Regions from separate parts of the Homo sapiens genome. Here region 2 is linked to region 1. Evidence: fine-mapped expression QTL. Tissue or cell type: whole blood. Region 1 holds a variant in brackets; the other region holds the start of a gene. Each region is shown on its reference strand, or each on the opposite one. Region 1 overlaps COPZ1 (coat protein complex I subunit zeta 1). Region 2 holds the start of SEPTIN4 (septin 4).

Region 1 (2,913 bases):
TCTGTCGGGCGCAGTGCAGTGGCTCATGCCTGTAATCCTAGCACTTTGGGAGGCTGAGGTGGGCGGATCACTTGAGGTCAGGAGTTCGAAACCAGCCTGGCCAACATGGTGAAACCATGTCTCTACTAAAAATACAAAAAAAAATAGCTGGGCGTGGTGGCACGAGCCTATAGTCCCAACTACTCAGGAGGCTGAGGCAGGAGAATCACTTGAGCCAGGGAGGCAGAGGTTGCAGTGAGCCGAGATCGCGCCACTGCACTCCAGCCCAGGCGACAGTGTTAGACTCCATCTCAAAAAAAAAAAAAAGGCCGGGCACGGTGGCTCACGCCTGTAAATCCAGCACTTTGGGAGGCCGAGGTGGGCGGATCACGAGGTCAGGAGTTGGAGACCAGCCTGACCAACATGGTGAAACCCGGTCTCTGCTAAAAATACAAAACTTAGCTGGGCGTGGCCACGCCTGTAATCCCAGCTACTCAGGAAGCTGAGGCAAGAGAATCACTTGAACCTGGGAGGCAGAGGTCGCGGTGAGCCGAGATGCGCCACTGCACTCCAGCCTGGGTGACAGAGCAAGGCTCTGTCTCAGAAAAGTTAAAGAAAAAGAAAGTCTCTCTGTCACATTTCTCTTCCCTTAGTTCTCTGTCTCTGCTTCTTCAGTGAAGTCTGTTTCAGCCTGCTTCTTCCTTATTCTTTTGCTTTAATCTATGCCTAATAGGCTGCATTCACAGATCCCTGCTAACTTGATCAGGTAACCCTGGACTTTGCTTTTAAAACCACACTGGTTCTTTGTTATGGGAAACCTATGTAATGCGGTTAGGGACAATCTGATCAAAGCATATTCTTCTGTCCTTAACTCTACAAGGTACATACATAGCTGCAGGATGTCGAGAAAAAGGGACAGGTAAGCTACAGGGGGTCAAGAAGAACTGTTGATCAAAGTTTGCATTGATTGTGGAATTTCTAAATAACAGTAAGTTCCCTTCTTTTAGGTACTTTACAGTGGGTCACATGGTCACATTTCTTTCTTGAATTAAGTAATCCAGCTCTAGCTTTCAAGCAGATTTGTCTAATCTCTCTCAGGTCTCCTTAGGCTCTAAGGAAAGAGACCCTTTCATCTCTTTTAGTTCCCAATGCTTAATAATAGTGATCTCAGCCTGCATCTTTGGACTTGGCTTCTTCTCTCTTGCTGTATCTGCTGGTTCTCGCTTTTTGAGTTGTGAATGAAGAGGATCTCTGCAGATCACCATTCTCCATTAATAACCT[G/A]TGGAATCTTAAAGATAAGGATTTCCCCTTCCTCCTTCCTGCTTTACTTTTTTTCTTTAAAGCTGAATTACTCGGGCCGGGCTCGGTGGCTCACACCTGTAATCCTGAGGTGAGTGGATCACCTGAGGTCAGGAGTTCAAGACCAGCCTGACCAACATGGTGAAACCCGTCTCTGCTAAAAATACAAAAATTAGCTGGGCGTGGTGGCATGCGCTTGTAATCCCCAGCTACACGGGAGACTGAGGCAGGAGAATCGCTTGAACCTGGGAGGCGGAGGTTGCAGTGAGCCGAGGGCCATTGCACTCCAGCCTGGGCAAAAAGTGAAACTCTGTCTTAAAAAACAAACAAAACTGAATTCTGTATCGGTTTAGATCTTTAAATCTTTGTTCATAGGTTTTATTTTTCCTAATCCTCTCTGGATTCACTTTCAGAGTGCTTCTCCAGTGCTTTACAGACTAGACTTCTAATTCTGTACTTTGTCTTACCTTAATATTTTAAAACCATAACCAAATCCTAAATTCTAAGCCTCATTAAAAAATCAGGCCATCCAAAGTGCACAAGGATATGAGTATGTATGGAGGAGGAAACTATGCAGAATATGTCAATGACTTTAAAGGTTGATGTTGCTCCTTGGCCTTTGCTTCCTGAATCATCTTAATGGGGCTTTTGTTAAATTCCTTTGGCCCTAACAGTAGAGGTACTTGGCCTAAATGCCCCCCTCCCCCTGCTCTGGGCAAAGGTATCAATTACATTAAGCCCCTAAAGCACTCCCATCTCGTTCCTGGCAGTCCCCTGTGCCCCTCTCCCAGCTGCGTCCTTGCTGGTGCCTGGCCCCCTCCATTTTGTTAGGAGAAGCAATCTCCTCATTCCTGCGCTGTGGAGATATATTTCTCAGCTAGGGCGCGAGCAGTGCCAGCACTGCCCCCGGTGAGGTCCCTGGCAGCAATAAAAATTTTTATTGTGATTATGTTGGTGTCGGGGTGTCCATCTGGGTTATTGCACACCTAGTTTAATTGATTGAAGTTTAATTTATTGACACTTCAAATTAAATGATCAGAATAAACTGTGCTGTTACTCTGGCCAGCTTGTTTTAATGGTTGATTGCTGGAAGCAGACCTCGGCTTGAACTAAAACCCCCAAAGAGCAATTGACGCTGCTTCTAACTCTCCCCATGTCTTGCCCTCCAAGAAGACCTTGTTATAGATTTCCGACGTATTTATATATATTTTTTCCCTCTTCTTCACAGTGGTGGGAAAGAGTTGGTCCCTGGCAAGGTATAAATTATATCAAAGATCTAGGGGAGCTGTCACATGGTCAGAAGAGGAGGAGGGGGCCTCCATGTGAGGAAAACCAGACCCTTGAGAAGCCAGGTCTGCCTTGGGAGGCAGAGGATGAGTGCAATTATCCAGGTATTTGACGGAGCCTAGTGGCAGGTTTAGGGTCTTTTTTATCTAGATACTTGCTGCTGTTTCTTACTTTACTCCATTGACATGGCTTGATTAGAGTCTGGATGTTGACAAGAAAACAGGTTGTGGAAAGGGAAACTAGAGGAGCAAATCAGATGGAGCAGGGATAAAGAATCAGTACCTATGTACCCACTTGTGCTGGAGTAATTAGGAAGAGGAAAGGCAGAGTGCCCAGGGGACAGCTGAT
Region 2 (2,913 bases), not on the chromosome of region 1:
GCACCTGGGCAGTCTGCTTCTTCACATACCCAGGAAGAAAGCAGTAAACCTTTGAATGGGTTGTTTGCAGGTGTGCTTGGGGGTCTGTGGCACTTCACTCAGTGGTGCCCAACTTGGAAACTCCTTTGGTGGTGATGGTGGTGATAGGCTTGCCTTCTCTCTCTGGAACTTCAGATCCTCACAGAAAGGGCTAGAGTCTATTTTAAAACCGGACAATAAAAGATCTAGGGAAGGAGAGCACTTAGGCTCAAAATCCGGTGTTGTCAGCTGGCTTTGGGGTGTTTCAACTTCAGGATTCAGCAAGGGCCACCATGAGGAGTCAGGTCCGTACCTAGGTAAGGACCGAGGAGGCAAGGGCCTAGGGGTCAGTTCCAGTTCTGCATGGATGGAGGGCTTTTGCGAGAGTTCTGGATACCTGGGTGTAGGTCCTTGGGACATGTAAGTAATTTCTGGGGGTTTTTGGGTTTGCTGTTTATAGATGGGCTCTGGAGTAACAAACATGGATGACTTGTGGGAGCCCTCAGACACTGATGGAACTGTCACATGGTGAGTTGGCTCTACTGACTGTACCCCTGGGGAGATGGTGACCCTGCGGCCAACCTCGCTGTTTCCTCGGATTGGGGTCCTCACGTTGGACTCCACCTGTGATGATACTAAGACCTTTGCGGAGGGCTTGGTTTCAGGATAGGCAGAATACTTATGAAGAGACTCAGGGTCTACCCGTGCAGAAACTCGGTGTACACCATCAGAATCTTTAAGGACAGAGAGTTTGAGCAATGAGTCCAAGTTCATATTCCTATACAAGGCCTTGGGTTTTGAAGGAATTGGACCGTAAGGACCTGTTTCTGATTCTTCTACAGGGACCCTTCTCTGGGCTGTCTGATAGTCTGCAGAGACACAGCTGCTTCCGTGCTCTAGGAGAGAGGGACTCCTTGGAGATCTGATCTCACTAGTAGTCGTAATTCTTTGGATGGGCTCAGTTTGTACTGCTTCATCCTTTGGGTAAGACAAAATCCTACGGGGAACTCTGACTCCTTGGGGGTTCTGGACCTTGGATGGTGGGTCATCTTCTAAGATTTGTGATTGTAAGTTATTCTTCTGGTCTTGAAAACTCAACTGATGAGTAGATTTGGCATCTGGGATTGATGAAGCATGATGGCCGACCTCGCGCCCTGACTTGCTCTCACTGCCTCTTCGTGCTGCTTCCTCTCTGGGTGGACTAACTTTCCATTGTCTGCTTGAAGCATGGGAAGCCAGTGTCTGAGTCTTCTGGCTCTTTAGATGGGGAGAGGAATGGCGGGATGATTCTGTTCTTGGTCCAGTCTCGGGTCCCCGAGGAGTGGGTACTGCATAGTGTCCAGGTCCTGACTGGAGGGAGACAGATCGAGGGTAGTCTGATGCTGAATGGGGAGTGGTGGGATGTGCAGCTTCTGATCTTCGGTGGGAAGGGTTCAGGGAGACTGCAGCACTTCGATGGCTTGAGGCAAGAACGTACCCATGTCCCTGCTGAGGGGATGTGTTAGTAGTAACCTCAGACCCTCTCTGTGCTGAAACCGCTACCTTGGCCCCAGGTTTATTTGTCTTGACCATCTGATAGATTGTGCCCTTCTGAGTAGATCCCGTATTTTACTGGCTGGCTTGTATTCAGGATCCTAATGATGCCTGAATATTTACCCTGTTTTAAAGCTGCTGTTTCTTGGGCTCCCACAAAAGTGGCTGTTGTTCTAAGAGTGTCTCAAATAATCCCCTTAGCTACCTCTCTGTCTGGTGATGTCATAAAGGAAGGAGCTTCCTTCCTATTAAACATCCTAGTGTACAGCCACAATTCTTCACAGAATCCCAAAGAAGTACCTGAAAGGAATCTGTGGATTTGTCTTTGGAGTTATATCACCAAGCCTTTGGCAAGTTTTTAACAAAACTGGGATTTCCTTGTACATAGAGAAGGCTCCAGACCCTCCTTTACTCTCCCGAGATTCTAGAAATTCTCAGGACTCATCCAGAGAAGGAATCAGCCAGAAGATCCTATGAAGACAAGATCAAACCAAACACGCTGTGTTCGCCCCAGTTTTAATAAGGTACGAAGTACAAAGTTGCCCCAATTTTGTTTGAAACTGTACTGTATACAAGTTAAAAAAAAAAAAAAAAAGAGAGCTTCAGCTTTTTCCAGGTCTCATGGATTGTTTCATTGCTCCTGGGGTAAAAATCCAGGTTGCTCAAATAATAAAATTCTCACATTCTTGCTCCAGGAGAGTTTAGTGTTTTATTAATAAAAGGGATTTGCCATGTGCGGTGGCTCACGCCTGTAATCCCAGCACTTTGGGAGACCGAGGCGGGTGGATTGCCTGAGGTCAGGAGTTTGAGGCCAGCATGGCCAGCATGATAAAACCCCGTCTTTACTAAAAATACAAAAAAATTAGCCAGGCATAGTGGCAGGCACCTATAATCCCAGCTACTCAGGAGGCTGAGGCAGGAGAATCGCTTGAACCCGGGAGTTGGAGGTTGCAGTGAGCTGAGATTGTGCCACTTTACTCCAGCCTGGGTGACAAGAGCAAAACTCCATCTCAAAAAATATATATAAATAAAAACAAAATAAAAGGGATTTGGGCTGGGTGCAGTGGCTCACACCTGTAATCCCAGCACTTTGGGAGGCTGAGGCGGGTGGATCACCTGAGGTCAGGAGTTTGAGACCAGCCTGGCCAACATGGTGAAACCCCATCTCTACTAAAAATACAAATATTAGCCAGGCGTGGTGGTGCGTGCCTGTAATCCCAGCTACCCGTGAGGCTGAGGCACGAGAATCGCTGGAACCTGGGAGGCGGAGGCTGCAGTGAGCTGAGATCGTGCCACTGCACTCCAGGCTGGGTGACAGAGCAAGACTCCATCTCAAAAAAAAAAAAAAAAAAGAAAGAAAGA

Evidence for each region. PIP is the estimated chance that this variant, and not a neighbour inherited with it, causes the effect.
Region 2: SEPTIN4 starts here. The variant in region 1 is the best candidate, but not a certain one, in a credible set for the expression of SEPTIN4 in whole blood (TOPMed, PIP 0.60).

Annotation. Positions count from the first base shown.
Region 1 is chr12:54,327,984-54,330,896 of GRCh38, forward strand. The region is part of intron 1 of COPZ1 (coat protein complex I subunit zeta 1); the gene reads left to right. Among named protein-coding and RNA genes, the nearest start is that of COPZ1, 4.3 kb to the left of the region's middle. RefSeq lists enhancers at 1,208-1,898, 1,899-2,588. The variant G/A (reference allele first, on the strand shown) is at 1,261.
Region 2 is chr17:58,542,597-58,545,509 of GRCh38, forward strand. It overlaps SEPTIN4 (septin 4), which reads right to left and starts at 1,732. Exons shown (of 14, transcript NM_001368771.2): 1 at 30-1,732. The coding sequence starts at 1,590. It overlaps SEPTIN4-AS1 (SEPTIN4 antisense RNA 1), which reads left to right. Exons shown (of 5, transcript NR_110810.1): 3 at 861-1,002; 4 at 1,940-2,075.